Linked DNA regions of Homo sapiens: region 2 is linked to region 1. Evidence: fine-mapped QTL for protein levels in blood plasma. Region 1 holds a variant in brackets. A gene starts in the other region. All regions are shown on their reverse strands.

Region 1 (15,892 bases):
AAATAGTTTGTATCTCTTAAGTACTTTATATTGCCTCTGAGTATTTTCAAAGAAACTCACTTATCTTGATGATTGTGTTTCTTAACTTGACAAAGAGCATCTTCATAATATAAATTCCATTTATTATTTCTGGTGTGTCTTTTCTTTATATTTTAAATTTCAGCTACAGTAAGTTACTTATAATTCTTCAATGACACCATGCATTTCGTGACCATATTCCTTAAAGATTGTTTCACACACTGTGTATTTGGCAAACTCCTCATCTTTTTTCAAGATCCAGTTTAGATCTATGTTATTCTCTCCCCCATAGTCTAAAACAGAGTGAATGACTCCTTTATTTGTTAGTTTTATGTCTAATACATATTTCTATTTTTGGGTTCATCACTATTAAAATATGTATATCTTGTAGTGAACTGTGTTCATGGAGGAGAAGGCTATTAGTGAGAAATTGAACAGCCTTGAAAAGAAGTAGCCTTTTCCTAGGTATATAAGGTAGGGAAATAAATTTTAAGTAGAGAGAAAAGTTTCTACAGAGGCACAGAAGCATGAAAATTACGGCATGCCCAAGCATCTTTAGGCTGGAGCATCAAATTAGGTTGATAAAGTAATAGATATTAAAGCTTTTAAGGTAACAGCATACTATTTTAAAGTGTACTAAAGAATTAGTGTTTATCACCTCTCCTTAATTTTAATAGCTGGACGAAATTAGGGAATCTATGAAAACTGTTTGTGCTGCAGTTTGCTCAGAAGAAAAATGGGAGTGGTAATAGGGCCTACCTCACAGGAATTACACAGTGAGCTATAAATACATGTTAGCTAATATGATTATGATTATTATTTTTAGTATTATCTATCTTCACTGACAGACTGAATTCTGTGGCGGCCTTTTTAACCCACCCATCATCAAATGCCTAAAATAGAGTCAGAGAACATTACAGGTTGTTACATTATAGGTCATTACATTGATACTTTTGGATTAATTATTGCATACATGATTATTACAGAAATTATAAGAAATTATGTAAGGGATCATTGCATACATTTTAAGGAAACGTTAAGTCATCTAAAGGAAAAACATCACATGAAAATATTTGAAATTTATTAATATATTTATAATCATGGCATAAATTTCTTGGAAAAAAGACTTTGAAGCAAGGAAACAATTTACGAAGCTATTGTAGAGGTCTGCATGACAGATGATGACAAATCACTTTATGGCAATAGCAACAAATATGCAGAAGAAGAAATATGCTGGAGGACCAACAGATATGGTGGTTTTCTACATGTTCAATGTATCATGAAAGTCAACATTCTAGGCTCTGGAATATACTGTCTGGCTTCAAATTCTGTTCTCTTACTAATTCTGTAGTAATTTCTTGTGTGACCTTAGCAAATTACTACACCTCACCTCTCTATGTTTCAGATTCCCTGTCTGTAAAATCAGAATGATATTAACAATTATCTCCTAAGGCAATTTTAAGGATTGAATGAAATAATGTTTGTTAAATGCTTATTGGAATGCCATATATGTAATATAATAGACGCTCACTTAATATTCACTGCTATCATTATTACCATTATTTGTGGTGAGATAAAGTGGGTCAATTTTAGGTGGTTCTAATTTGGCCTGTATATCATTAATTAAGTAAAGAATATAGTGGGCTTGTCATACAATAATTCATTCAACTTTGAATACTTTAAGCTCCACATGTCTAAGCAGATACGTTTGTGGATCTAAAATTAAAGAAAAAAGTATGGATGAAAATATATTTATTAGCAGTTGAGACATGTCCATTGAGCAGATGAGAAGGTTACGGACAGAACTTTGACTCAAGGAATACACGAAATGTTTTGATAAAGCACTGTCAGAAAGAATGGAGGAGAAAATGGGACAAGAAGGGTCACGTATACCAAACGTAACAGACGTCAAAAGGAAGAAGTCTGATGTTCATTCTGAAAATTAGAAGTATATTGAAAAGCTTTACATAGAACAATTCAAAAAGGTTGAGCAGACCCCAGATTGCAGTACATGGAGGAATGAGTGCAAGACTAAGAGATAGCGATAGTAGATACACATTGTTTGTGGTCTCTAATGTTATTATGAATAAAGTAAGCAAAATTTTGGAAGAACAGAGTTATCATTGCCTTTGGGGATGGTTGGCTGCACAAGGTGAAGTCCCAGAATTCTCTCAGATGGATGAGTTCAGCTAGGAATGGGGAGGTCTAGATTTATCCATACCCAACTCGAGGCAGAAAAGCCAAGACAAACAAGTGTAGGAAATCACTGAGCACCCTGGTCTCCATTTCCCACTCCACACCACCTTCTTCACCCTCATCATGAATGGAAATCTGGAAATCATATTACCTCTCACTGAAATAATATTTATTTTTCAGCCCACAGGGAACCCAGACTGGTTGGAGGGGACATTCCCTGTTCTGGACGTGTTGAAGTGAAGCATGGTGACACGTGGGGCTCCATCTGTGATTCGGACTTCTCTCTGGAAGCTGCCAGCGTTCTATGCAGGGAATTACAGTGTGGCACAGTTGTCTCTATCCTGGGGGGAGCTCACTTTGGAGAGGGAAATGGACAGATCTGGGCTGAAGAATTCCAGTGTGAGGGACATGAGTCCCATCTTTCACTCTGCCCAGTAGCACCCCGCCCAGAAGGAACTTGTAGCCACAGCAGGGATGTTGGAGTAGTCTGCTCAAGTAAGACCCAGAAAACATCTTTAATTGGTTCTCATACTGTGAAAGGGACAGGGTTAGGGAGTCATAGCTGTCTTTTTCTAAAGCCCTGTCTCCTTCCAGGATACACAGAAATTCGCTTGGTGAATGGCAAGACCCCGTGTGAGGGCAGAGTGGAGCTCAAAACGCTTGGTGCCTGGGGATCCCTCTGTAACTCTCACTGGGACATAGAAGATGCCCATGTTCTTTGCCAGCAGCTTAAATGTGGAGTTGCCCTTTCTACCCCAGGAGGAGCACGTTTTGGAAAAGGAAATGGTCAGATCTGGAGGCATATGTTTCACTGCACTGGGACTGAGCAGCACATGGGAGATTGTCCTGTAACTGCTCTAGGTGCTTCATTATGTCCTTCAGAGCAAGTGGCCTCTGTAATCTGCTCAGGTAAGAGGATGACGGGCAGCCAGTGATGGGTCTTAAGAGAAGGTGTACATAGGGATGAAGAACAAAAGTAAAACGCAGTGATCCATTTTGAAGGGTCATGAGAAGAATGAATACTAATTCATGCTTCAGAATATTAACCTCATTTGTCTTTTCAGAGGGTGAGCAAACCTAATTTTGATGGACTTCTTAGTTATCCAGTGCTTACTATGTGCCAAGCCCATCTCAAAGCACCTGATTTATTTCAAACTTGTTGACCATCCACCTTCCCCTCTCTCTCTAAGCTATGTTTGTCCTCAACTCATCCATATAACATTTCATCTGACTCCCCTAACCTTTTGTGTCTTGTATGACTGAGTACCTTGGTGTTTGCAGGAAACCAGTCCCAAACACTGTCCTCGTGCAATTCATCGTCTTTGGGCCCAACAAGGCCTACCATTCCAGAAGAAAGTGCTGTGGCCTGCATAGGTAAGACTCTGTGACAAATCTATGAAAATATTAATAACAAGTGGAATGCTCATTATTAATAGTTTCATTTCTCTTTGCAGAGAGTGGTCAACTTCGCCTGGTAAATGGAGGAGGTCGCTGTGCTGGGAGAGTAGAGATCTATCATGAGGGCTCCTGGGGCACCATCTGTGATGACAGCTGGGACCTGAGTGATGCCCACGTGGTTTGCAGACAGCTGGGCTGTGGAGAGGCCATTAATGCCACTGGTTCTGCTCATTTTGGGGAAGGAACAGGGCCCATCTGGCTGGATGAGATGAAATGCAATGGAAAAGAATCCCGCATTTGGCAGTGCCATTCACACGGCTGGGGGCAGCAAAATTGCAGGCACAAGGAGGATGCGGGAGTTATCTGCTCAGGTAAATTATGCATATGACCTTTGGTCATAATTACATAGAGAAAGGACTGAGGAAGGGTAGTGAGGGGTATTAATCTTAAAGATTTTCCTGAAAAGTTGATCCAAAAGGAACTATTGTGGGAGTCAGGACAACAGAAGTCTGGGTTTGATGTGCTAGTGGTACTTCATGAGCAAGGTAGTGCAACATTGTAAAGAGAAAAGACCAGAAATGGTCTTGTATATCATGAAAATGACAACAAAGTTAATAATGAAGGTTTTTAATAAATATATTTGGGGCCAGATATTAGATAGCGATCCAATAGCAACACTTGATAATTACAGTATTAGTAAAGAAGTAGATTTAAAGGGACAAGAAGAAATATATATGTTGCATCATTCTACAGAAAAAAAGATAATTACTATGCCCAAGCAATTTTTCATGGCAGATAAATGAGACTTACTTGTCATAGAAACAAAAAGTAGCATGAGGTTACTGCCCTCATACTGCTTTGTATACATGGTGAGTTTTAGAAAACATTCTGAAATTTAAAAATGTACTATTTCATATGTATTATGGGGAACAGAACTATGATTCAGTAACTTAAGGAAGTGAAAAACTCTGTATCTCAGAAGTGATTTATTCCTATTTTAATGACATAAATCTGGTAGAAGACATGCACTGCAAAACTGTGAAGTGTCAGCAAATGAACTGTCATTTTAAGAGATGTACACAAAACATTGATTTTAGTGCCTGAGTGTCTAACAATTTTAACTATCAAAGACAGTTGCAAAAAAAGGAGAATATTTTTGGGAAAAAATCCAAACTATGTAACTGAAAAAAGCCTATTAGAATGATTGAGGGTAATCTAAAGAGGACTCTGAGTCCAAAACCAAAGACCAAAAAACTATAATGTATTTATAGAATAAATAAAATATTTTAATAATATCTATGAAATCATCCAGAAGTTACTAACGAATTATTAGTAACTGACATATTGTACTATTGTACCTATTTTTAAAGCCATTCTTACATCAAGGTAAAGGGAAGGAGTCTCTGAATCTTCAGAAAAGATGCAAAACTACTAATTCTATGTTTCGCTGCAGAATTCATGTCTCTGAGACTGACCAGTGAAGCCAGCAGAGAGGCCTGTGCAGGGCGTCTGGAAGTTTTTTACAATGGAGCTTGGGGCACTGTTGGCAAGAGTAGCATGTCTGAAACCACTGTGGGTGTGGTGTGCAGGCAGCTGGGCTGTGCAGACAAAGGGAAAATCAACCCTGCATCTTTAGACAAGGCCATGTCCATTCCCATGTGGGTGGACAATGTTCAGTGTCCAAAAGGACCTGACA[C/T]GCTGTGGCAGTGCCCATCATCTCCATGGGAGAAGAGACTGGCCAGCCCCTCGGAGGAGACCTGGATCACATGTGACAGTGAGTATCCATCGACCTATATGAAAATTCCATTCTGCAGCCCCGCTATCATCTTCTGATAATGGACACTGGATTTTATTTTCCTATTCTCACACTGGCTTAAATTGTTAGATTGAATTAAGCAAGAATGGGTAACTTGTGGGTAATATCTATTCTACCTGGATAGTGTAACTGGTTTTATTTAATTTGGCCTGTAGATATTCAGGATCAGCTATTATTATTCTAAAGAATATCATACTCCCCATGGTCTGCTTGAAAGATTTATTCAATTGCTTTCTCTGAGGAGGAGAGAATATGTGGTTTAATATTTGACTGTTGAATGGTCTACCTTACCTTCCCATTTTTCTTTCAAATATTATCTTGTTACACTAATATAAGGAGAAAAGCAGTCAGAAATCAGAAAGATCAATTCTGAAGTATTTCCACATTCTACAGGTTTTTTTTTTTTTTTTTTTTGAGACAGAGTTTTGCTCTTGTTCCCCAGGCTGGAGTGCAATGGCGTGATCTTGGCTCACTGCAACCTCTGCCTTCTTGGTTCAAGCAATTCTCCTGCTCCAGCCTCCTGAGTAGCTGGGATTACAGGCATGAGCCACCATGCCCAGCTAATTTTGTATTTTTAGTTGAGATGGGGTTTCCCCATGTTGGCCAGGCTGGTCTTGAACTTCTGACCTCAGGTGATCCACCCGCCTTGGCCTCCCAAATTGCTGGGATTACAGGTGTGAGCCACTGTGCCTGGCCTCTACATCTTCTTAAACTGTGAGATTTGTGACAACCTGCCAGTTTCCCAAGATCTTGCCTATTTGAAAGAATTTGACATCACATATTTATAATGTTAACTTTAATCATTTAACATTTACTGGGTCACATTATGTATCTTATGTGCAGGATGGAATATACCTAGTTGGCTGTAATGACAAGTCCTCTTATAAAAGATAAATTTTGTAAAAATATAAATTTTAGGCCAGGCACGGTGGCTCACGCCTGTAATCGGACTTTGGGAGTCCGAGGTGGGCGGATCACGAGGTCAGGAGATCGAGACCATCCTGGCTAACATGGTGAAACCCCGTCTCTACTAAAAATACAAAAAATTAGCCGGGTGTGGTGGTGGGCGCCTGTAGTCCCAGCTACTTGGGAGGCTGAGGCAGGAGAATGGTGTGAACCTGGGAGGCGGAGCTTGCAGTGAGCCGAGATTGTGCCACTGCACTCCAGCCTGGGTGACAGAGCGAGACTCTGTCTCAAAAAAAAAAAAAAAAATATATATATATATATACATATATATATATAAATTTTAATATGCACATTCAGTAAAATTTTAAATAGTTTTTTTTTTTTTTTAAGTTTCAAATCTCTCTTTTCACCTGTGAACTCCTGGAAACTTTTAGAAGTCTTAGAAATAGGCTACATGTCTCTGATTTTTCAGACAAGATAAGACTTCAGGAAGGACCCACTTCCTGTTCTGGACGTGTGGAGATCTGGCATGGAGGTTCCTGGGGGACAGTGTGTGATGACTCTTGGGACTTGGACGATGCTCAGGTGGTGTGTCAACAACTTGGCTGTGGTCCAGCTTTGAAAGCATTCAAAGAAGCAGAGTTTGGTCAGGGGACTGGACCGATATGGCTCAATGAAGTGAAGTGCAAAGGGAATGAGTCTTCCTTGTGGGATTGTCCTGCCAGACGCTGGGGCCATAGTGAGTGTGGGCACAAGGAAGACGCTGCAGTGAATTGCACAGGTAAGTGCCAGAAGCCTGGATTGAGCTTGGAATCTCTGGCAGCAAAGAGGGGTTGGGCAGTGATGTGTGTTGTGTAAAAACCGGATTTATCAGCACAGGGATCTGGTGGGGATTCTCAGAGAATCATAATGTCTCTACTGAAAGAATGATGAAAACAATTGTTATACAACGGCCTTCACCAAGGAGACACATACAACCTATATTCCCTGTGCAGAGAAAGAAAGACTAGAGGACTCTAGTTTTAGGTGGGAAAGAGTCATATACTTGGTTGAGAGGTACTAAGGGGTCAGACAAGGAAATCAGAAGGCTTGTTCTATATATCATGCAAAGAATTAACCCTCTCTCTTTCTTTTCTCCTACAGATATTTCAGTGCAGAAAACCCCACAAAAAGCCACAACAGGTATATCATGGAGTTTATGATGATGAGACCAATTATCTGCATACATAGAATTTTTCTTGTTTAGAAATTTTAGGTCAGACGTTCTGAGGATTTGATATTTACCTCAGGGATCAAGTATTTGACCTAAGAGAGAATCAGTAACTAGGGACCTTGATCTTTTCGATAAGACATGATCATATCTCTTGATATTTACTTTTACTTAGGTCGCTCATCCCGTCAGTCATCCTTTATTGCAGTCGGGATCCTTGGGGTTGTTCTGTTGGCCATTTTCGTCGCATTATTCTTCTTGACTAAAAAGCGAAGACAGAGACAGCGGCTTGCAGGTTTGAGCCAAATTTGGTTTATCTAATATGTCTACAGGATAAGGGGGTTCTTGTAAGACGAAAATATTAGACTCAAGTCTAATGGCCAGAAAGATGGACTCTAAAAGAGGTTTGAGCAGTTTCTCAAAACAGAGGGAAGGGCCAGGCACAGTGGCTCACACTTGTAATCCCTACACTTTGGGAGGCTGAGGCAGGAGAATTGCTTGAGTCCAGGAGTTCAAGACCAGCCTGGGCCACACAGGGAGCTCCCATTTCTACAGATTTTTTTCATTTTTTAAATAGAGGGAATAAGATTTCAGAGGAGAAAAGGGGTTTAGGTTGCATTGATGATTCCTGTGTTCTATCTACATGCTTAACTGGAACATTACAGAATTGAAAGTTCAGAATGAATATGTTAGATATTGTTTAGGATGACTTTTTACCTAAACATTTATTTTCTCTTACTATAATCAATCTCCTTATTACAAATTTTACTGTTCTGTTGAGCAATGTATTAGGCTCTGAAGATACAGACATGGACAATAAATCTTGGTGGAACTTCAAGTCTAGTGGAAGAGATATATATGTAAACAAATACACTACAATGTAGCCATTTTACATTAATAGGAAAAAGGAACAAAAGTGGCACAGAGAAGGGAGTAATTAACTGAAAGGGGAGGGGGATTACTGGAGGCTTCAAAGAGGCTTGGGGACAAATTTCGAACATAGAGGCTCAGAGAATTGGGTGAGGAACATTCTAGAGAAGAATATGTACAAGTCTAGAGAAGCCTAAAGGATGAAGCATTTCTTGTTTTTTTCCTGAGGGGCGGGGGGAGAAAAGTTGAGTGTGAGGAGAGAGGCTGCTAAGTCTGAAGAAGAGAAAAGGCACAAATTATGAAGTTCTTATGTTTCACATAAGATTCATAGTCATTAAAGAGTATCATGTAGGGGAGTGAAATGGTCAAGATATCTTTTAGGAAGATCTTTTGGCAACGGGATCTAGGAGGATTGAAGGAGGACCACTTGACTGACAGGAATGGCATTTTGTAACAGTTGAGGTGAAAAATGAAAAGTACTATAACATATATAGTGAGAATGGAGGGGAGAGGAAAGACTTTTAGAGATACTTAAGAAAAGCTCCAGTGAGTTATGGAAGACTGCTGGCTTCCTTGGGTAAAAACAGTGGGTTGTTTATATTAATACAATGGCAGTGGGGAAGATTTAGCCTTGTGCCTATTTCATTTGAGTGTGCGGAATTGTAAGGGAAGAGCTTGGTAGTAGAATGGGATAGAAACAATAGCAGGGATAAAGACGAGGTATGTTTGCAGCGCTTGGAAAAAACACACTTACAGCAAGGGAAATTTTATTATGATAGCTGATCCCTAACCTAGGGATCTCTGTTTTCAGTTTCCTCAAGAGGAGAGAACTTAGTCCACCAAATTCAATACCGGGAGATGAATTCTTGCCTGAATGCAGATGATCTGGACCTAATGAATTCCTCAGGTCTGTGGGTTCTTGGAGGGTCTATTGCCCAGGGGTTCAGATCAGTGGCTGCAGTTGAGGCACAGACATTCTACTTTGATAAACAGTTAAAAAAGTCTAAAAATGTAATAGGAAGCTTAGATGCATATAATGGACAAGAATGACTGAAAATTATTCTTGGAGAATATCAAAATTGCAATCATAGGGAGGCCTTTAGCTTAAGAGGCCTGTGATTATTCCTGATAGAGGTATGGAAAGAACCATGCAGAGGAATATTATGACTTGGACCTCATTTTATTAAAACAGAAATTAATCTTACAAAAGATTGTCATAAGTGACAGTTTAACTTTTTTCTTTAAATTTTGTTGTGTATATTTAAGGTATACAACATGATTTTATGGGATGTATATAGATAGTAAAAAGCTTACTAAAGCAAAGCAAATGAACACACCCATCATCTGACATAGTTACCCTTTTTTGTGTTGTTCTTGTGGCAAGAGCAGCTAAAACCTACTCACTTAGCATGAATCCTACATACAGCACAATGTTATTACCTATAATCCTCATGTTGTACATTAGACCTCTAGACTGGTTCATTCTACGTATCTGCTACTTTGTATCCTCTGACCTACATACGTCTTTCACAGTTTCTTCCATTCCCATTTCCTGTCATTTTTTTTCTCTAGCTTGATATTTATTATATTTTTCCCTAAAAGTCTAAAACCTTAAACTTTCAATATCTTTATTGCATGAGAAGCCATACAAATCCACAGAACTAGCCTTATTTCTCATCACATCATGCTGTTTTATCCTTGAACTTCTATTTAGCACCAGTGCACTAATTCTGCATCTGGGCAGGATGACTTTACTGGGTTGGAAGAAATATCCCAAAACCCATTGTCTTTACTCCATGAAGGGTCCCTGACCTTCTGAGAGGGGCCTGCCTCACTTCTTCCATCCAAAGAATTATGCATCTGCTACTGTGTCAGGGAACATATTTAAGGAACATGTACTGTTACTGTGTCAGGAAACATATTTAAGAAATAGGAAAGACTTTCTCTGCCCCTTAAATCACACATGCTTTTCTTCCTAGTTATGGGTGGTGTTTTTAGTTGCTCAAAGAGCCTCACAGTTACGTGAGAAGAGGTCTGGTTTATTTCCCAGTAATTATTTTCTTCCTTTCAGAAAATTCCCATGAGTCAGCTGATTTCAGTGCTGCTGAACTAATTTCTGTGTCTAAATTTCTTCCTATTTCTGGAATGGAAAAGGAGGCCATTCTGAGCCACACTGAAAAGGAAAATGGGAATTTATAACCCAGTGAGGTGAGTGATGAGAATTTATTAGTCATTGTTCAAAACAGCTGCATTCCTTTTGAGGACTGAGAGCTCTTCTGGCATTAGAAAGAAAGAATGTATATAAACATATTTTATTTGCTTATGTGCATATGTTTGTATATGTATATATCTATATTGAGAATATATAAAAGCTTATAAATATAACTGATTCATCTCTTAATTATACACACAAATAGTAATAACACATCCATGGAGCTAAGGAGAAACTGAGTAAACAAATACAAATTAATCTTTTGAAGACATTACAGGTATCATTTCAGGAAAAAGATAAGACATATTATACATCTACATCGTATAATACATGCTATGGTAAAGACTGTACAAGGCACTACAGAAAGTTTGCCTAAGAAACTTTGGGGTTGTTGTAAGATGATATGATATTTAAGGTAAACTTTAAAAATAACTGAAAAATAGACAGTTCCAAAGAAAGGACACAGTATGTGCAAACTAGAGGCAGAAAAAAGAACCATGCCTTTAGGGAACTATAAGAAGTTTTTTATTCAAAAACGTATATTGAACGTATTTATGGTAACAAGTGGCACCGTGAGCACTGAAGATAGAGATAAAATCTACTATTGGCAAAGACATGATTGTTTAATAAAAGATATCATAGTCTATAGGTGGTAATATGAAGAGGCCATGTGGAGAGAAGAGAGGTGGTTAGAATCTAAGCTGAAAAGGCTGCATAGAGCCCTGTAATGAATGGTCTTACCTGCTATACTTTATGTTCTCTTTCACTGGGGGTCTGTTGAAGAGGTGATGATGAGCTTTGAAAGTTTCAGATGAGACAAGATGATTAGAATTGCATTTTACAACTTGCTTTCATGAGAAAAACATAAAAAAAAATTCAAATGTGAACAAGACGTATAGTTAAGCTATACATCAAGAGAAAAAGATTGTGAAATGAGTTACTAGATACATTTTCTGTTTTTAAAATAATAATTTGGGGAAGACTACATCTAGAAATGAAATGTAGAAAAAGTATTTTTTATAGAAATATTATATATTCCTATAATTCATCTACATATTATATATCTACATTGTATAATACATGCTATGGTAAAGACTGTACAAGACACTACAGAATATTTGTATATACGAAATATAGATTAAGACAAAGGATAAGAGTTGGAACTCTTAAAGTACATGAAATATAAATTGTGAATATCTATAAAATGCAGAGCTAATTTTACATACTATATATATACACACATAGATACATAGAGTTCTTAGAAACTGTACAGAGCACAAAAGGGTTAATATATGTGAATGTAAATTGTATGTATGTGTATGTGTAACATCTAATAGATAATTGGGCAAAGCTATGAAAAGACAATTGACACAAAATGAATTTCAAATGACAGACATTTTTAAATGTCTGGAGGATTGAAATTATAATTAACAATGAGCTATCACTTTATACAAATCAGACTAACAAAAATTTGAAATACCATCAATATTTATTACTGGCGGGAATACAGAGAAAAAGGCCATTTCAAACACTGCTTTTGGAAGTGTGAGATATGGTAGGTAGCCTTTGGAGAAAGCAATCTGGCAGTTTCTATTAAAAATTATTTTCAAAGATTCACAGACCCTTTGACCCAATAATTCTATCCCTGAGAATTTCTTCTTACCAATAAAGTCACTAGTATGTAATGACAAATATACAAAGATTCCTTTCTGCCATGTTGTTGAAAGTGGCAAAAACTAGAAACAAAGTGAATGCCAATTGATGGAGTAATGACTGGAAAAATGACGGTTTAGGCAACTAAAAAAGAAAAAATCATTATAAAATATAATAATATTCCATTTATGTATTGGCTATAATTAAATACAATGCTTACATCTATAAAATTATGCATTCATATGTGCATAAAGAAGCTAAAAATTCTAGTGTTGTAAACTGAGAACCATGAATAATATTTGATTTATAATCTGAAGCATATGAATGTTTTCTGATGTGATAAATGATAATTGAACTACTTTTCCCTGAAAGAGTAATCACTGCTGAATAACTGCTTCAGAATCACATGAGGGTGCTTTTAAAAAATGACGATTCTTTTTTTGTTTTTAATCTTTAAGTTCTGGGATACATGTGTTGAATGTGCAGGTTTGTTACATAGGTATACACGTGTCATGGTGGTTTGTTGTGCCTATCAACCCGCCATCTAGGTTTTAAGCCCTGCATGCATTAGGAGCTTAAATTTGTCTTAATGCTCTCCTTCCCCTTGCCCCCACCCCGCAGCAGGCCCCATGTGTGATGTTCCCCTCCCTGTGTCCATGTGTTCTCATTGTTCAACTCCAACTTATGAGTGAGAACATGCGGTGTTTGGTTTTCCGTTCCTGTGTTAGTTTGCTGAGAATGATGGTTTCCAGCTTCATCCATATCCCTGCAAAGGACATGAACTCATTCTTTTTTATGGCTCTATAGTATTCCATGGTGTGTATGTGCCACATTTTCTTTATCCAGTCTATCATTGATGGGCATTTAAGTTGGTTCCATGTCTTTGCTATTGTGAATAGTGCTGCAATAAACATGTGTGCCTGTGTCTTTATAGTAGAATGATTTATAATCCTTTGGGTGTATACCCAGTAATGGGATTGGTGGGTCAAATGGTATTTCTGGTTCTAGATCCTTGAGGAATTGCTACATTGTCTTCCACAATGGTTGAACTAATTTACACTCCCACCAACACTGTAAAAGCATTTCTATTTCTCCACATCCTCTCCAGCATCCGTTGTTTCCTGACTTTTTAATGATCACCATTCTAACTGGTGTGAGATGGTATCTCATTGTGGTTTTGATTTGCATTTCTCAGATGACCAATGATGATGAGCCTTTCTTCACATGTTTATTGGCCACATAAATGTCTTCTTTTGAGAAGTGTCTGTTCATATCCTTTGCCCACTTTTTGATGGGTTGTTTGTGTTTCTCTTGTAGATTTGTTAAAGTTCCTTGTAGATTCTGGTTATTAGCTCTTTGTCAGATGCCTAGATTGCAAAAATTTTCTCCCATTCTGTAGGTTGCCTGTTCACCCTGATGATAGTTTCTTTTGCTGTGTAGAAGCTATTTAGTTTAATTAGATCCCATTTGTCAATTTTTGGCTTTTGTTGCCATTGCTTTTGGTGTTTTAGTTATGAAGTCTTTGCCCATGCCTATGTACTGAATGGTACTGCCTAGGTTTTCTTCTAGGGTTTTTATGGTTTTAGGTCTTATGTTTAAGTCTTTAATCCATCTTGAGTTAATTTTTGTATACGGTGTAAGGAAGTGGTCCAGTTTCTGTTTTCTGCATATGGTTAGCCAATTTTCCCAGCGCCATTTATTGAATAGGGAATCCTTTCCTCATTGCTTGTTTTTGGCAGGTTTGTTGAAGATCAGATGGTTGTAGAGGTGTGGTGTTACTTCTGAGGCCTCTGTCCTGTGCCATTGGTCTATATATCTGTTTTGGTACCAGTACCATGCTGTTTTGATAACTGTAGACTTGCAGTAAGTTTGAAGTCAGATAGCGTGATGCTTCCAGCTCTGTTCTTTTTGCTTAGGATTGTCTTGGCTATACAGGCTCTATTTTTGTTCCATATCAAATTTAAAGTAGATTTTTCCAATTCTGTAAAGAAAGTCGATGGTAGCTTGATGAGAATAGCATTGAATCTATAAATAACTTTGGGCAGTATGGCCATTTTCACAATATTGATTCTTCCTATCTATGAGCATGGAATGTTTTTCCATTTGTTTGTGTCCTCTTTTCTTTCCTTGAGCACTGGTTGGTAGTTCTCCTTTAAGAGGTCCTTCACATCCCTTGTAAGTTGTATTCCTAGGTATTTTATTCTCTTTGTAGGAATTGTGAATAGGAGTTCACTAATGATTTGGCTCTCTGCTTGTCTATTATTGGTGTATAGGAATGCTTGTGATTTTTGCACATTGATTTTGTATCCTGAGACTTTGCTGAAGTTGCTTATCTGCTTAAGGAGTTTTTCGGCTGAGACAATGGGGTTTTCTAAATATACAATTATGTCATCTGCAACAAGAGATAATTTGAGTTCCTATTCCTGTTTGAATACCCTTTATTTCTTTCTCATGCCTGATTGCCCTGGCCAGAACTTCCAATACTCTGTTGAATAGGAGTGGTGAGAGAAGACATCCTTGTCTTGTGCTGGTTTTCAAAAGGAATGCTTCTAGGTTTTGCCCATTCAATATTATATTGGCTATGGGTTTGTCATAATTAGCTCTTATTATTTTGAGATACGTTTCATCAATATCTAGTTTATTGAGAGTTTTTAGCATGAAGCACTGTTGAATTTTATCGAAGGCGTTTTCTGCATCTGTTGAGACAATCATTTGGTTTTTGTGATTTGTTCTGTTTATATGATGGATTACGTTTATTGATTTACATATGTTGAACCAGCCTTACATCCAGGGATGATGCCAACTTGATTGTGGTGGATAAGCTTTTTAATGTACTGCTGGATTTGGTTTGCCAGTATTTTATTGAGGATTTTCGCATCAATGTTCATCAGGGATATTGGCCTGGAATTTTCTTTTCTTTGTTGTGTCTCTGCCAGGTTTTGGTGTCAGGATGATGCTGACCTCATAAAATGAGTTAGGGAGGAGTCTCTCTTTTTCTATTGTTTGGGATAGTTTCAGAAGGAATGGTATTTGCTCTTCTTTGTACCTCTGGTAGAATTTGGCTGTGAATTCATCTGGTCATGGTTTTTTTTTTTTTTTTTTTTTGGTTGGTAGGCTATTACTTACTGCCTCAATTTCATAACTTGTTATTGGTCTAGTCAGAAATTCGACTTCTTCCTCGTTTAGTCTTGGGAGGATGTATGTGTCCAGGAATTTATCCATTTCTTTTAGATTTTCTAGTTTATTTGTGTAGAGGTGTTTATAGCATTCTCTGATGGTAGTTTGCATTTCTGTGGGATCAGCGGTGATATCCCCTCTATCACTTTTTATTATATCTATTTGATTCTTCTCTCTTTTCTTCTTTATTAGTCTGGCTAGTGGTCTGTCGATTCTGTTTATCTTTTCAAAAAACCAGCTCCTGGGTTGATTGATTTTTGAAGGGTTTTTCATGTCTCCATCTCCTTTGGTTTTGCTCTGATCTTAGTTATTTCTTGTCTTCTGCTAGCTTTTGAATTTGTTTGCTCTTACTTCTCTAGTTCTTTTAATTGTGATGTTAGGGTGTTGATTCTAAATATTTCCCACTTTCTGATGTGGGCATTTAGTGCTATACATT
Region 2 (15,892 bases), not on the chromosome of region 1:
GCAGTAGGAGGCTGGGGAAGTTCTTTCTTTTCCTGCAGGCTCTGTGGGCCTGACAGCAGGGACGGTACCCTGTGAACGGTTGGCGGGGCTCAGAGAGCAACTAGAAATCATATGGCTTTCTCACCCTCCCATGGCATCATGTTCCCTGATGTGTCTGTTCCTCTGGTTTATTTTATTTTAGTTTTTTAAGACAAGCTCTCACTCTGTCACCCAGGCTGTAGTACAGTGGTGCGATCTCACAGCGGCCTTGACTTCCCAGGTTCAGGTGATCCTCCCACCTCAGTCTCTCGTGTAGCTGGGACTACAGGCACATAGCACCATGCCTGGCTAATATTTGGGGTTTTTGTTTTTTGGTTTTTTTTTGTTTTTTGTTCTTGTAGATATGGGGTCTCACCATGTTGCCTAGGCTGGTCTCAAACTTCTGGGCTCAGGTGATCCGCCGCCTGAGCCTCCCAAAATACTGGAATTACAGGCATGAGCCACTGTGCCCAGACTTGTCTGTCCTTCTGCATCTGCACTTCACTTCTGGAGCACCATCCTTCCCCTTCTCCCATCAGTTCAGACTCAGCCCGGTTGCTCTCTTCTTCTCAAGCCTCTCTGACTTCCCCTGGGTAAAAGGCTTGTTTGATATATTTTATCAGAAGCCTTTCTGCACTTCCTATTTGAAGTGCATCTGGATAAAAGGCTTGTTCGATATGTTTTATCAGAAGCATTTCTGCACTTTCTCTTTGAACTCCTGTTAATCATTGCATTCCTTACAGAGTCCAACCAGACTCTTAAAAAACTCCTTGACAGTCAGCTGGGCGTGGTGGCTCACGCCTATAATCCCAGCACTTTGGGAGGCCAAGGCAGGAGGATCACCTGAGGTTAGGAGTTCGAGCCCAGCCTCTGGTCAACATGGTGAAACCCTGTTTCTACTAAAAAATACAAAATTTAGCCGGGTGTGGTGGCATGCGCCTGTAATCCCAGCTACTCGGGAAACTGAGGCAGGAGAATCTCTTGAGCCTGGGAGGTGGAGGTTGCAGTGAGCCTAGATTGCACCACTGCACTCCAGCCTGGGCAAGAGTGAGACTCTGTCTCAAAACAAATAAATAAATAAATAAATATTTTTTTAACACACTTGACAGAATAATGTCTTTAGCATTTTATCCTCAGCATCTAAACCTGGTGTACTGAGCTACTTAACAAATGATGATTAAATAAATAATATATGAATAGATGGATGGATGAAAGAATGAATGATGAAGAATGCTGATAGCATATACTAAAAGCCAAATGAGTCTATGACTGCAGAGGAAGCATAGATAGCACATACTATTCATGTCCTGGGCAAAAGCCTGAGAAAACTAACAGAAGAAACAACAAGTTTTTTGTTTTTTGTTTTGAAATGGAATCTCACTCTTGTTGCCCAGGCTGGAGCGCAATAGCTCAACCTCGGCTCACCGCAACCTCCGCCTCTTGGGTTCCAGCGATTCTCCTGCCTCGGCCTCCCGAGTAGCTGGGATTACAGGCATGCACCACCTCACCTGGCTAATTTCGTAGTTTTAGTAGAGATGGGGTTTCTCCATGTTTGTCAGGCTGGTCTCGAACTCCCGACCTCAGGTGATCCGCCTGCCTAGGTCTCCCAGAGTGCTGAGATTACAGGCATGAGCCACCATGCCCAGCCAGGAAGAACAACTTTTAAACCCTATTCACCTCCTAGCACTCTCGCTGCTGCTCCTCCTCACAGAGACTGAACATCCACCAGAGTCGTTCATAGAAGGGAATCTTGGTCTGAGAGGACAGCAGGATCAGCAGAAAAAAAGAGACGCCATCTTACACTTTCTGGTCCTGCTACTTGAGTGCCAGTTAGAGACCTCATGGTGGGGGATAGTTCATACTTGCTTCTCTGACTCATCTCATCACAAAATTATTGTCACTAGTACACAGTCCCCACAACAATCCTCTGTCTAGTTATGTCAAGATTAGCACTTACAAGTTCAAAATAGCATCTGACGTGACTTTCTATTTACAGAAGGGCACATGGGATGTGTTAATAACACCCTCCTTAGGGCTTTGGATGCTGAGGACAGGTCTAACAGCCAAGCTCTGAAGGGGTAGGCAGCCCTGATATTTATCTGCTGATTATCACACTAGGGTCCTCAAAAGGGAATTCCAGAAGCTTCTTTTGATAAAACCTCAAAATCATCAGATCTGCTGCTGCCAGAACCAAAAATAGCTCGGCCTAGTTGGGAAAGTATTGGTCTGGGAGTTGGATGGTGTGGGGGCCCTCGTTTTGTACTAACGGGCTTAGTGTCCTTGTAGGCACTGTGAGCGTCTCTGCATGTCCGTGCTGTCTTCTATGCATTGTGGATGATGGAGCAGCACCCCTGTCATCACGGGGTAGATAGGTGTCCCGAAAACGATGACAGCCATGAAAAGACTGGGTGAACACCAAGCCTCAATCCCAGGAGGGAGAGAAAGGGAGAGCCGTGATAAGAAAGCAGCCGCACTAGAAATGCTTCCCAGTTGCCCTTGTGGCAGGAATAAAATCCTCCTACACTCAGGTGTTTGGTGGTCAAGGAGTGGCCCTTTGGTGAGGAGGTAACTCACCAAAGGTTTCTGCTGCCTTTTAACTTGCTGTAAATTAGTCAGCCGTGCTCTCTCCTCATCTGCTTGACCTATGACTCTGTGGCCCATGACTGCCTCATTCCTGGTTAATGCAAGGAAGGGCCCAGTAGCAGCCAGAAATGTGAATGGCTATTCTCAAACATGGGAGGTTACCTACACCAGGATAAATAAAATGGTTGCCTTTCCTCTTTTACAATAGTCATTTTGTTCTTCTTTAAGATTTGAAAATATAGTAAGGCAGGTCCCAGAATAACATTGTTTCTTTCAATGTTGCTTTGTCATAATATTGGTGAGAAAAAAAAAAAAATCAATTCCTGGCTGGAGCCACTGTCTGTGTGGAATTTGCAAGTTCTCACGTGAGTTTTCTCCAGGTACTTCAGTTTCCTCCCACATCTCAAAGATATCCTCGTTCCTTGGTACGTCTGCATGGTTCCAGTCTTAGTGAGTGTGGCTGTGTGTGTGTGAGCGTGCCCGGCAATGGAATGGCCTTCTGTCCAGGGTCCCCAGCTTGAACTCTGAGCTGCCAGTATGGGCTCCAGCCACCCAACACTCTGAGTTGGAAAAAGCAGGTTGGAAAATGATTGAATAATGAACAAAAATTGTTATCAAATAAAAATTCATGAAGTCTACAATAATCATACAGGCATATGACAATAAATGATGCTGCATGGAAGCGTTCAGCGAGCCCATCATATTTGTTGTTGGGTTTTTTTGAATTGCATGGTGGTAGGAGGTGCTTATAATTTTTGCTTTAAAACATTTATTCCTTGCTTTAACCCACCACCACTATGACTGCTGTCACTCACTGATTCACCAAACATTGGGTAAATAATTCTCACACTTGTTTCTATTAATCTTTCTGAAATGTACGTATAGCTCACATTTATTTTCATATTTACCATTAGAAGCATTTTGGTCTTTCTTTAGAAGTTTAGTGATGTTTTTGTGACCAGAACTATGTCATAGGAATTTAAATAAATCTTAATTATGTCAATTAGCCTAAGGTAAAATTGGCTTCATTGTATGTTGTTTTGCTTAAAGTTGCAGTTTCCAAGAACATATAGATAATGTTAAATGGGGGCTTATTGTATAATTAAATAGTATTTATTGAGCTCTGACTACATGCTAGTCTGTGTTAATGTTTATTTATATTCTTTCATTTACTACCCATAATAATTCAGTGAAAATGTTACCAGAAAGAGGTTTCAATCCAGACCCCAAGAGAAGGTTCTTGGATCTCACGCAACAAAAAATTCCAGGCGAGTCCATAGAGTTAAGTAAAGCCAAGTTTATTCAGAAAGTAAAGGAATAAAAGAATGGCTACTCCACAGGCAGAGCAGCCTCAAGGGCTGCTGATTGCCTATCTTTATGGTTATTTCTTGATTATATGCTAAACAGGGTGTGGATTATTCATGAGTTTCCTGGGAAAGGAGTCGGCAATTTCTGGGAACCTAAGGGTTCCTCCCTTTTTTAGACCATATAGGGTAACTCCCTGATGTTGCCATGGCATTTATAAGCTGTCATGGTGCTGGTGGGAGTGTATTTTAGCATGTTAGCGCAATATAATTCACGTATAATGAGCAGTGAGTCCGACCAAGGTCACCACCTTGGTTTTGTTGGGATTTGACTGCCTTCTTTACCGCATGCTGTTTTATCAGCAAGGTCTTTGTGACCTGTATCTTATGCTGATCTCCTGTCTCATCCAGTGAGTTAGAATGCCTAACCTCCTCCAAACGCAGCCCAGTAGGTCTCAGTCCTATTTTACCCAGCCCCTATTCAAGATGGAATTGCTCTAGTTGAAATGCCTATGACAAAAAGGCATCATTATGCCCATTTTACAGGGAAGGAAACTTTCAGAGGGACTAAGTTACATGCCAAGCTCCCAAAAGTACTACATGCAGACCCAGGATTTGAACCCTGTTTTATTTTATACAAAACCCATCCCCCTGCATATTATGCCATTTTGTCTCAAAAACAATAATAGTACCCACAGAAAGAAGATGAAGAGGAAGAGCTGGGAGCACATATTTAACCAAAAATAAGAAGTCCATAGGTCTTGGACGAATACACTCCTACCAGCACTGGGCAGGCAGACAGAAGAGGGCCCAGATTAAATTAAAAAGTGTGTGATTAATTGGCAGCTAGTAAAGAACAAGATGAAATCCTTCAGAAAACAAATATATGAGTTTTGGTGAGCTGAAGAGATCTGTATCTGAAGTCAGAATATTTAATATACATCATATATAATTAATATTATTATTATTTAATGTTCTTTTAAAGGGTGACTGGGTCAGTATAACTGAGCATAATCTGTTTTGTCTCAGAGTCTGGCTATCTTTTTTCCCAATATCAGTCTCTCAACTAAACCAAACATGTTTTTAACTTCTCCCACTTAATTTAGTAGGTTAACAAGTCTATGTAAAAGAAGAGTATCATAATTTAGCTTAATAGTCCCTTGCAATACTATTTTAATATTTTAAAATCAAAATATCACTTTAAAACCTATAGGAATTATTTTTGCTTCCTTTGGCTTTGGTTCTTTTGTATCATACAATTTTATCATTTAAAATCAAAGATCTTACCATCAGATTTACCTGGGCTATAGTAGTAATTTTACCACTTACCCATGGCCAAATGTGTATGACAATCCCTACTTCATGAGATTATCATAAAGATGAAATTAAATGAGACAATTTTTTTTTTTTTTTTTTTTTTTTTTTTTGAGCTGGAGTCTTTCTCTGTCACCCAGGCTGGAGTCAGTGGTAAAATCTCTGCTCACTGCAACCTCCACCTCCCGGGTTCAAGCAATTCTCCTGCCTCAGCCTCCCGAGTAGCTGGGACTACAGGCGCCTCCCACCATGCCTGGCTAAATTTTGTATTTTTAGTAGAGACGGGGTTTCACCATGTTGGCCAGGCTGGTATCGAACTCCTGACCTCATGATCCACCCACCTTGGCCTCCCAAAGTGCTGGGATTACAGGCATGAGCCACCACGCCCAGCCCTAAATGAGACAATTTATGTGATTTTTTTGCACATGGGAGGCACTCAAAAAATAAAAGTGTCCATTTCCTTCACCTCTGAATTCATACTCTTTATTTTAAAGTTGCAGTGTCGTGTATACAGATGTAAAAGAGAGCTTTGGAATCAGTGAGGCCTGGATCCAAACCCCATCTCTGCTTTCCACCAGCTGTGCGACCTTGGGCAAATGTCCTAGTCTCTCTGAACCTCACTTTCTTCTTCTGTAAAAGGAAAATAATGGTACTACTTTGCAGGAATGCTGAGGTTTACAAATAGCATATGCCAAGTATCTGGCACATGTTAGGTGCAAAATAAATGGTTTTGCTTACACTTAGATAAAATGACTTTTGTTCTATGAAATGGAGCTAATGATTAGGTTTTATGGAAAGGCTTTATTTATTTATTTTATGATTAGGTTATACAAAAATGCTTTATTTCACCTGGAAGCTTACCTGGGTGTCATTTTATGGTTGTCTCATCTGACCATTTTTAAACCATGGTTGGATCTTGTGGAAATGTTTAGAGCTCGTTATGAAGCCAATGTAAACAAAGGTACCTATCAGCTGTTGCAGACACTATCCCATCCACAGGGGCACCCCTGACATAGCTGTAGCCCAACTTCACCCTGAAGTCTTGGAAAGGTTACATGATTCAGACAGATGTAGTAGGCATGAGATTACAGGCCAAGAGGAAGAGGCCGGGGCTGTAGGCAGTATACTTGACAGGCTCATACACTGCAAGCCTTGTTCCGGGCCCCTTACAAAGCACCTCTTTAGGATGAAAACAAGATGGTCTTTGTAAATAAAAGTTCATGCATTTGGGTAATGAAGTCATTTTCCAGCGCTGCAGTGAAAGATATTCTTCTCCCAAGCCCTCTGGGTGAGGACTGGAGGGAGGAAGAGGGGTGGCCAGTGAATCTGAAGAGAAGATATTAGCACAAAGAGTGCAACAGTCTATCCCCCAGAAAAAACCCGAGAAACCTTGCTCAAGAAAGTGGGCACCCTGACCCTCTGCCTTCAGAGATCATCTACCTTTGGTTCCTGCCCTGGAATCCCTTTTCCACCCACTTTCCTGCAAACTAGCGGGGGCCACATAAAATATCTATGTAAATATAGATAAGACATCCGGTACCTTGACTACATAAATAAGAGTGGTGAGGAAGCGTCACAAAAGCTGAATATTCTTCTGGAGCCCTTGGAGGGGCTCCAAACTGAGAGGGGAGGGAAGACCGCAGGGAAAGGCGGACCTCAGTGTCTGAAAAGCCAGCTTAGAGTGGGAGGGCCTGGGAGTAGAAGGTAAAAAGGGAGTGGTGAGAATGAATGTGAGAAGGAAGCCAGGACAGCGCAGTCCCCAGTCCCGAACGGCCAGGGAGAGGAGGTGGCCTAGCGCTGGCGGGGCTCACCCCAATCCGTCTGCCTTTTGATGCCGTACTGTAAGCTCCGTCCATCTGTAGGTTCTTGAGCCAGAACCTCTGCGGGAAGGAGAAAAAGTGAAAGAGGGAGAGGGAGAGGGAGAGAGAGGGGGAGAAGGGGAGAGAGAGAGAGGGAGAGAGAGGCTGGAACTCTCCCTTACTCTCGCACTTTCCCTTTATTTCCTAAGCTGCTGGTTGCGCAGCCACCTCGGGATACTGCACACGGAGAGGAGGGAAAATAAGCGAGGCACCGCCGCACCACGCGGGAGACCTACGGAGACCCACAGCGCCCGAGCCCTGGAAGAGCACTACTGGATGTCAGCGGAGAAATGGCTTTGAGCTCAGCCTGGCGCTCGGTTCTGCCTCTGTGGCTCCTCTGGAGCGCTGCCTGCTCCCGCGCCGCGTCCGGGGACGACAACGCTTTTCCTTTTGACATTGAAGGGAGCTCAGCGGTTGGCAGGCAAGACCCGCCTGAGACGAGCGAACCCCGCGTGGCTCTGGGACGCCTGCCGCCTGCGGCCGAGGTACAGTGTCCCTGCCATTGCCACCCTGCTGGGGCACCTGCGCCCCCGCGGGCTGTGCCACACTCGTCCTTCTCTCTCTCTCCGCCTCTTTCCTCTCCCCAGTGCCTTGAGAGTTTCACCTGGGCTAGGTCAGTTCGGAAACTTGAAATAAAGAGTTTTCCTTTGTAAGTTGCATTTGGATGTTGAGAGTTGAAAGTTGAGGCTTCGGAATGTGTCTGCTCAAAGGGGTGAGAGTGCATGTGTTGGTGCTCTGAGTTCATCCGCTAGACTCTCACCGGGGACTGCAGCAGCACATCGGTGACTTCTGCCACTTGCGTGTCCCAGTAGTCATTTTGTCAAGCCACGGCACTTAACGTGTGTGCCCTGTCACTGGCTTCCTGCTCCTCTGTGCTGTTAGGACAGTGGGAACACTACTGCAGGATCTTTTTGTCTCATATTAGACAAGAAGTCTTCTGCAGCAGGGAAGGTGAGGGGGTGAGTGAGAGTGGCTGGTCATGAAAGGAGCTGTTAGACAACTGCTGAGAGGGTATCTTAAGTAGAAACGAGCCATTGTATTCCAGAAACAAGATGTTTCCATTAAAATCAAGCCTCAGGATATGCTATTGATAATATGTTTATTCAAAGAGCTGCTGTTTGAATACCTTACAATAGCTTTTAAGTTGGAAACAAAACCAGAATGTAGAGGTCTGGTAAAGGAGAATGAATCCAGAACAAGTGATTTAAGAACCCCTGAACTGAAACAGACAACAGCATGCCCATTGCATGGGACATGCTAAGAGGGAGGAAAATAAAGTCACCTAAGTTCATGGGAAAGGAAGGAGCAATTGACCTAGCAAAACAAACACCACACTCTATAGCTATGGTTACAGCAACTGTACAACTAAAACAGTTATGTGGATTGACACCATTTCTAACATCACTGATGCATGGATTATTGCTATGAATTCTGTTAATTGTTAGTACAATTATAGTTATTAATTATTGATGATTAAAAATAAGGTGCATGAACATGGTCCTTCTTCAGAGTAAGCCCTACCCACATTGCCCCAAAAAAGAGAGTGGACAGGGTCAGAATATGCCAACCTCTCACTGTGGTATAAAATGTAGCCTCCATGAAAAAGAGGGAGCATGGCTTCTGGTCAACTTCATACCCAGAAACTTGGGGAGAAGCCAGACCAGGAGGGACTTCATGCAATGGGAAGGCTTTGCTTCTCTACAGGCTTGGAATTAACCCCAGGGAAGCATTATCTCCACCTGTTGCTTTGAGCACGTAAAGTCCCTGAATGAAATGCTTAATTTTACTTAAGAGTAAAATTGGCAGATAAATTGCAGGACACTCAAATGTGAATTTCAGATAAATAATGAATGAATTTTGATCACATCCCAAATACTGCAGAGGACATATTTATATTAAAATTTGTTTTCATTGTTCATCTGAAATTCAAATTTATCCGGGCATCCTGTATTTGTATCTGTTAGGTCTAAAGAGACAAGCCATATACAACTGTTTTTTGTAACTCTCATCCCACAAAAAAAATAGGAAAGTAATTTTTTGAGTTTTAGAGAACCTTAAAATTAATGCTAAGACCCTAGGAAATTTCTTATGTGCTCATATGTTTGGTGAAATAATAGGAAGGCAGCACAGCAAAGTGTTTCAGATTGCAGGTTTTCAGTCTGATGGTCCCAAGTTGAAATTTCAAGCTCTTTGACCTTGGTCAAGTTACAGATCCCCAGACTGCAGATAAACTGATACTGACAGAATTTATTGATGCCTGCTTCATACCTCATACTTTTATTGTAATGAAATTAGATAAAATAGAGTGCTTAGCATAGTGCTTGACATAGTATAAATGCCCTATATATGCCAAGAGTTGTTACAATTGTTACTATAAAAAATGTGGATGATGATCAGATTAAAAGAAACCCTTATTTGAGAATATTCCTTAGAACCTTATGTTTATGGTTTTCTTTTACTTAATATTATTATATCTGTTTATCTATATTCTTCCAGCTGGAAAAAAAATGTCACGTAGTGAATTAAATTTGTAGTAATGTCAGAGTCTAATAGGTTCAGAATGCCAGTGGAGGCCTTCAGTTTTGAAAAACAGAAAGAAGATATTAGTCATTCCAGGAAGGTCAAAGTATATGGTGTAGAAAGGGTGAGATTGAGGTAATTATGTTCCCACTGCATAGTTTCACATAATGCCTCCAGTTAGCCTGCGGTCCCATGGCGATCCCAACGCCCCACCATCAGGTTTCCCATGCTCTTTATAGCAGTAACCAGACCTTAAACCAAATACATTCCGGAGACTTAATAACATGGTACAAACACTTTACTGGGTTGGCTCAGGAGACTGTATTTGTGTATATGTGGAGAGAGAAAGAGAACACGGACACATTATTCATGGGAGAGGTTCAATGTGTGGATGGGAAGATATTCTAAAAATACATTCTCTTTACTTGGATTTATATGAATGGTTATTCTGCAATTCTCCTTCAGAGGGAATGAAGAAAAATATTAAGGCAAGCATGGAGCAGTGGGAGGTGCTTGGCTGAAGGCCTTCCTGAGGTTCTCCTAAGCTCTTCAATAGCCCAGCTTGTGGACTCTCCATCCCTGAGTACTTGGCCCAAGACACAAACTCTGGCATGCTGTATTGCTCCATGTGAGCTGGGGAACAAATACATGAAATATGCACGGAATAAAAGGATAGAGATTGTTGGCTGACCAAAAAGGAAGTCTCCTCTTTTCCTTGTAAAACAAGCCAAAGCTTCCCCCCAGATGCAAAGTATTTGAAAAGAAGAGCACCTGTGGGTAACTCCGTACTAGTTGTGGGGAGGATTTTCCCACCTTTGCTTCTTGACACTTAATCTACTGAGTCCTTTATTGCTGAGTTTATGGTGAGAACAGTGATTCTCAACAGGTGATTCTCAAAAGGGAAGACTGGGCAGTTTCAATAATGATAATCAGTATTCTAATATTTCACATTAAGGAAAAGAAAGTCTATTCATTCCACCACACACACTATAGCAGGAAAAACTAGGCCAAACTCTTCTTGACCAATATAGATATGGTAGATATGGAAAAGAACTGGTGTGGGGGCAGGAATGAAGATGGGAACACCCCCACAAGAAGCCAGTAACAGAATGTCCTTAGGAAGAATGAGATTCTTGTCCATCAAAAAGAAGTAGGAACTAAACAAGGTCAAGAACATGAGGTTGGAGGTTACATTGTGTGGCTGGAAAGAAGCCACACAGAGACTGAGAAACTGAGAAGGCAAGGACTCTTCTGACAGGGCAAGGTGGAAGGTGGTGGAGGAGGTGACGGTGCTATTACTGGCTTTCACAGATAAATGATAGAATAAGGGATACAATTGACAACATTGAGTTGTCAATGAGTTGCCCCTCAGAGGGGAAAAGAGGAATTTCTCTCCTAGAAACCTCAGTTTTGCTATTGTTGTCATTATTGTTGTGTTAACTTCACTCCAAGAAGATCAGTGCCCATGAACATACCTTACACTGGAAAAACTGACTTGCTAAAAAGAAACTCTATAAAGCAGACTAACTCTGAGGGACTTTTCCTCTTGACTTTTTTCCTTGTTGATACGTGACCCCATGTCCCAGCACATTGTTAGGGTCCTGCCATTAAAAGATTGCAGAATGTTTAATAAAAACATTTTAGATCTCTTTAACCATCTGCTTTCTTTTTTCTTATCTTGGTCACTTGCTTTGAAAAAGGTCCCTTGAGATCACACTAAGACCTCCAGTTGCTAGCCTGGGTTATCACTCTACATTGCTGTTCCAACAATTCAATTAGGTAATCTGAACCCCTTACATGCAGTCATTATTTCATTCATTTATTCACCCAACAAGCTGGTTTGGAGCCTTACCTCGAAAGAGCAATAAAATAGGTACAAGGAGCAATAGAAAGAAGGTATAGTCTCATCTTTGCCCTCAGGGGTGAGCAATTGAAGAGAGAAAAAAAATAAGTGGCCATTATATACAGAACAATGTACTAACATTCTATAAGAGTGGCTACAAGGTAAGTGCCATGGAGGTAATGTGAAAAAAGTATTATTCCTGTGCTAGACCAGTAGGGCACAAAACTTACTTGCCAAACACCAAAATAGGCTTCAAAAACCTTATTTTAGAAGAACTGGAATATAGCAGTGGTGGTAATAGCAATAATAGTATGGCTCATAGCTGATACTCGTTGAGTACTTACCACATGCCGATACTGATGTAAACACTTCCCATGAGTAATTTCCAGTAACTTTCATGACAAATCAATGTGACTGGTATCGTTATTATCTCATTTGATACACATAGAAACCGAGGCACAGAGCATTTGCCCAGGCCCCTGCTTGTAAGCAGCACAGCTAGGAAGGAGTTTATAAAAGCAGTTCAACTGTGCAAAAGTAGCTAGGAAGAGGTGATTAGGTAAATAGAAATATATATAGGAATACTTCTAGTCAAAGTTTTGGGAATTCCTTTTTTTTTTTTTTTTTTTTTTTTTTGAAACAGAGTCTTGCTCTATTGCCTGTCTGGAGTGCAGTGGCTTGATCTCAGCTCACTGCAACCCCTGCCTCCTGAGTTAAAGCGATTCCCCTGCCTCAGCCTCCCAAGTAGCTGGGATTACAGGCACATGCCACAACGCCCAACTAATTTTTCGTATTTTAGTAGAGACAGGGTTTCACCATGTTGGCCAAGATAGTCTCTATCACCTGACCTTATGATCCACCCGCCTCGGCCTCCCAAAGTGCTGGGATTACAGGCGTGAGCCACCGCACCCTGCTGGGAATTTCTTTAAATGAAGAAATATAAAATGCAATTTAAAGACCATTTTTGCAGTGCTTGTTAGATGAGTAGCATAAGTTACAAAAAGTTGAGATAACTTCCCTTCTCCGTCTAGCCTAATGACTACTTTTTAAAACTACTCACGTAAGAAAGAAAAAAACTAATACTTGTTGACTTCTACTATGTCCCATCAACCTCCATGAATTGTCTTAATACTAAATAGTGAAAATTATACCCATTTTACAGATGAGTTCATTGACATTTAAGAGTGGTAATTACCTTAACCAAATTTTCATATTCCTTTCTCTGCTTTCTGTATACCAGGGAGTCTTCCTGATAGAGCACTTTTTTTTTCAACTATAGAGTCTCCTTATCCTATTTTCTCTTTATAATGATATTCTAGGGTGTGTCCTCCACGTGATGCTACAGTCTATCTTAAAAGCTGTTGATTTAGATTAATAAGTAGGAAATTCATAACAGTATTACCTATGGAATACCTGGTCTATGTTATGGAATTTATTATAACATTGCTAAAAAGTAAAGAATTCCATTCCCTAGTGTTCCAGGGTTCTCTGATTTAACCAGAGGAAGTCTTTTCTTTTAACATGATAAAATAAAAATAACAGAAACTTTGCCATTTGAACTTTTTTTTTTTTTTTTTTTGAGACAGAGTCTCCCTCTGTCACCCAGGCTGGAGTACAGTGGTGCTATCTTGGCTCGCTGCAACCTCTGCCTCCCGGGTTCAAGCAATTCTCCTGCATCAGCCTCCCGAGTAGCTGGGACTACAAGCGTGTGCCACCATGCCTGGCTAATTTTTTGTATTTTTAGTAGAGACGGGTTTCACCGTGTTAGCCAGGATGGTCTCAATCTCCTGACCTTGTGATCTGCCTGCCTCGGCCTCCCAAAGTGCTGGGATTACAGGCATGAGCCACTGCACCTGGCCATTTGAACTATTTTTAAGGGCACAGTTCAGTGGCATTGACTATATTCACATTGTTATAAAACCATCACCATCAATCTCCAGAACTTTTTCATTTTCCCAAACTGAAACCCATTAAATGATAACTTCCGATTAACTCCTTCCTCCAGCCCCTGGCAACAACAATTCTACTTTGTCTCTATGAATTTAACTACTCTAAATACTCCATATACATAATCATGCAGTACTTATCCTTTTGTGCCTAGCTTATTTCATTTGGCATAATGTCTTTGAGGCTCACCCATGTTGTAGCATGTGTCAGAATTGCATTCCTTTTTAAAACTGAATAATACTCTGTTTATATGTACACTATGTTTTGTCCATTCATTTTGTTGATGGACATTTGGGTCGTTTCTACCTTTTGGCTACTGTGAGTAATGCTGCTATGAATATTGCTGTACAAGCCTCTGTTTGAGTTCTTGCTTTCAGTTTTTTGGGAGTGTATACCTAGAAGTGGAATTGCTGGATCATATGGTACAGAGAAAGTTTTAAGACTTGGAGTCTTATAGGGGCCAGGTAAAAAAGAATTGAGTGAATCTAGCTCGGTAAAGAAACGCATCCTGTGAGTGGTGGGCCTCGATAACAGGAAATGGAAGAATCCCTCTTCCAGAGTGGCAGCCACCTCTCAGCATTGCCAGGTCTTCTGGTTTTGTTTTGTTTTGTTGTGTCTTTTTCAAAAGAAGACAGAATTTGGATTCATAAGTGAAATTGCTGACTCAAATTTTTTTTAATGCCCTGTAGGCTGAGTACATCTGAGGGCCAGATTCAGCCTAAAGATCATTTATTTGCAGCCTCTGCTTTACAATATTTTGAAGTTCACCTTTCGTTACAGGCAGAATATGGGCTTACAACCAGACAGATGCGCTGTGAATCCAGCTCCACAACTTTCTAGCTGTTTGACTTTGGGCAAATTGGACCATCTTTTAGATACTCAGTTCCTTTGATTGTAAAATAAATAGAAATACACCTGCCTTGCAAAATTCTTGTGAAATTTAAATGAAATAATATATGTAAGCTGCCCAACACAAAGTTAGCCCTCATTTCTCTCAGTCTGTCCCTCCTTCCTTTCCCTCATTTTTCCACTCTCTGCCTCTGTCTATCTTCAGGTAAAGCTCTACACTATCTTGTTAAAAGTATTTTGTTATCAAACTCTTTACTTATTCCATAAATTCGAGTACTTTTAACTTTTGCTTAAAATTTGCTGATTATCCAACATTGGAGAAGAAGGCTGTCATTTAGTTTTTATAATCATTGTGTCTTTTATGGTTCTTTAAACAGCCTTTCCCCAGCAATAGGAGGATCTGAGCAGTTAAGAGAAATGAATGCTAAATCCCTAGAAAAGCTAAAGAAAAAAGCCAACAGCAGCTGGGCACGGTGGCTCACGCCTGTAATCCCAACACTTTGGGAGGCCAAGATGGGTGGATCACAAAGTCAGGAGTTCAAGACCAGCCTGGCCAAGATGGTGAGACCCCGCCTCTACTAAAAATACAAAAAAATTAGCTGGACATGGTGGCAGGTGCCTGTAATCCCAGCTACTTGGGAGGCTGAAGCAGAGAATTCCTTGAACTCGGGAGGCGGAGGTTGCAGTGAGCGGAGATTGTGCCATTGCACTCCAGCCTGGGCGACAGAGCGAGACTCTATCTCAAAAAAAAAAAAAAAAAAGCAGCTTTGATATGACAAGGATAATACCTTTTTTCCTCTCATAATTAAATACTAAATCTGACTTGTCACAGTTTCTTGAATTAAAATGCCAAAAACACTCCCCTACTTTAGAGTTTTTTCTGGCTTATAGTAACCACATAAATATAATGATGGCCAGACATAATTTTGAGAACTTTGATTGGTTAAAAGCCATTAAAACCAGATTGCTAGTATATGCTTTGAGTCCAAACCTTAGCATTTCCAAACAATCATTTTTTTCTAAAATAAGTAAACCTAGTCTATTGATGTATAGTGACCATACAGAAGAATATTTAAATACCTACTCATATTTGCAAAAGAGCAGCATTCTTTTTTCAACTGTTTTTCTTTTTGGCTCTTGGTGTGGTAAAGTTAAATTCTGGGAAATGGTTTACTAAAGGGAAGTTTAACCACAGATGTTTGTAATTCCAACTTAAGTTTCCCATCAAAGTCTTAATGAAATTCAGCTGCCAGCAGTTCGGCTCTGAATCTGAGTCTTTTTATCATGAGAAACTTGGGGGAAACAACATTCTGAAGCTGAATGGTAATGGGAAAATTTCCATATTCAGCCCAAATCCTCTCCATAAAGAAAAAAATACATAAACAAATTCTGTTAAAAGCGGGAGGAGAGACGGGTGAATATAATTTGAGTAATATGCAAAATGACCTTCTTTTCACTCCCAGGACTTTCTTAGTTTTTATGTTGTGTTTTGGTGGAGGCTAGAGATCCGTGTTTACCTAAATGGAGTGAAGTATACACATTTTTTACTTCATGAGAACTGATGAGTTAGAGAAATCCCGTAACATTAACAGCTGCATTAGCACAAGTCTTTGCAGAGTAGACCAGTCATCCAGGCTGTACTCTACAGCTAAAAG

Direction of the effects. Alleles are on the strand shown, and positions count from the first base shown. The strength of an association depends on the size of the effect and on how common the allele is.
In carriers of allele C in region 1, the plasma level of the protein whose gene starts at base 6,952 in region 2 tends to be lower than with T alone (weak association).

Evidence for each region. A credible set is the group of variants that fine-mapping cannot tell apart. PIP is the chance, under the fine-mapping model, that this variant and not a neighbour inherited with it causes the effect. The UK Biobank Pharma Proteomics Project read protein levels with antibody pairs (Olink). The fine-mapping took linkage between variants from a reference panel, not from the people measured, so its PIPs are less certain.
Region 2: it holds the start of LAMA4, and the variant in region 1 is the best candidate, but not a certain one, in a credible set for the plasma level of the LAMA4 protein (UK Biobank, PIP 0.76).

The regions. Positions count from the first base shown.
Region 1 is chr12:7,474,590-7,490,481 of GRCh38, reverse strand. CD163 (CD163 molecule) reads left to right here. Exons shown (of 17, transcript NM_203416.4): 7 at 2,395-2,709; 8 at 2,809-3,123; 9 at 3,496-3,588; 10 at 3,669-3,983; 11 at 5,066-5,386; 12 at 6,807-7,115; 13 at 7,478-7,516; 14 at 7,720-7,839; 15 at 9,226-9,321; 16 at 10,569-10,622. The coding sequence ends at 10,591. Among named protein-coding and RNA genes, the nearest start is that of CD163, 21 kb to the left of the region's middle. The variant C/T (reference allele first, on the strand shown) is at 5,309.
Region 2 is chr6:112,245,627-112,261,518 of GRCh38, reverse strand. LAMA4 (laminin subunit alpha 4) reads left to right here and starts at 6,952. Exons shown (of 39, transcript NM_001105206.3): 1 at 6,952-7,060; 2 at 7,228-7,563. The coding sequence starts at 7,369. All of the region lies in intron 2 of LAMA4-AS1 (LAMA4 antisense RNA 1), which reads right to left.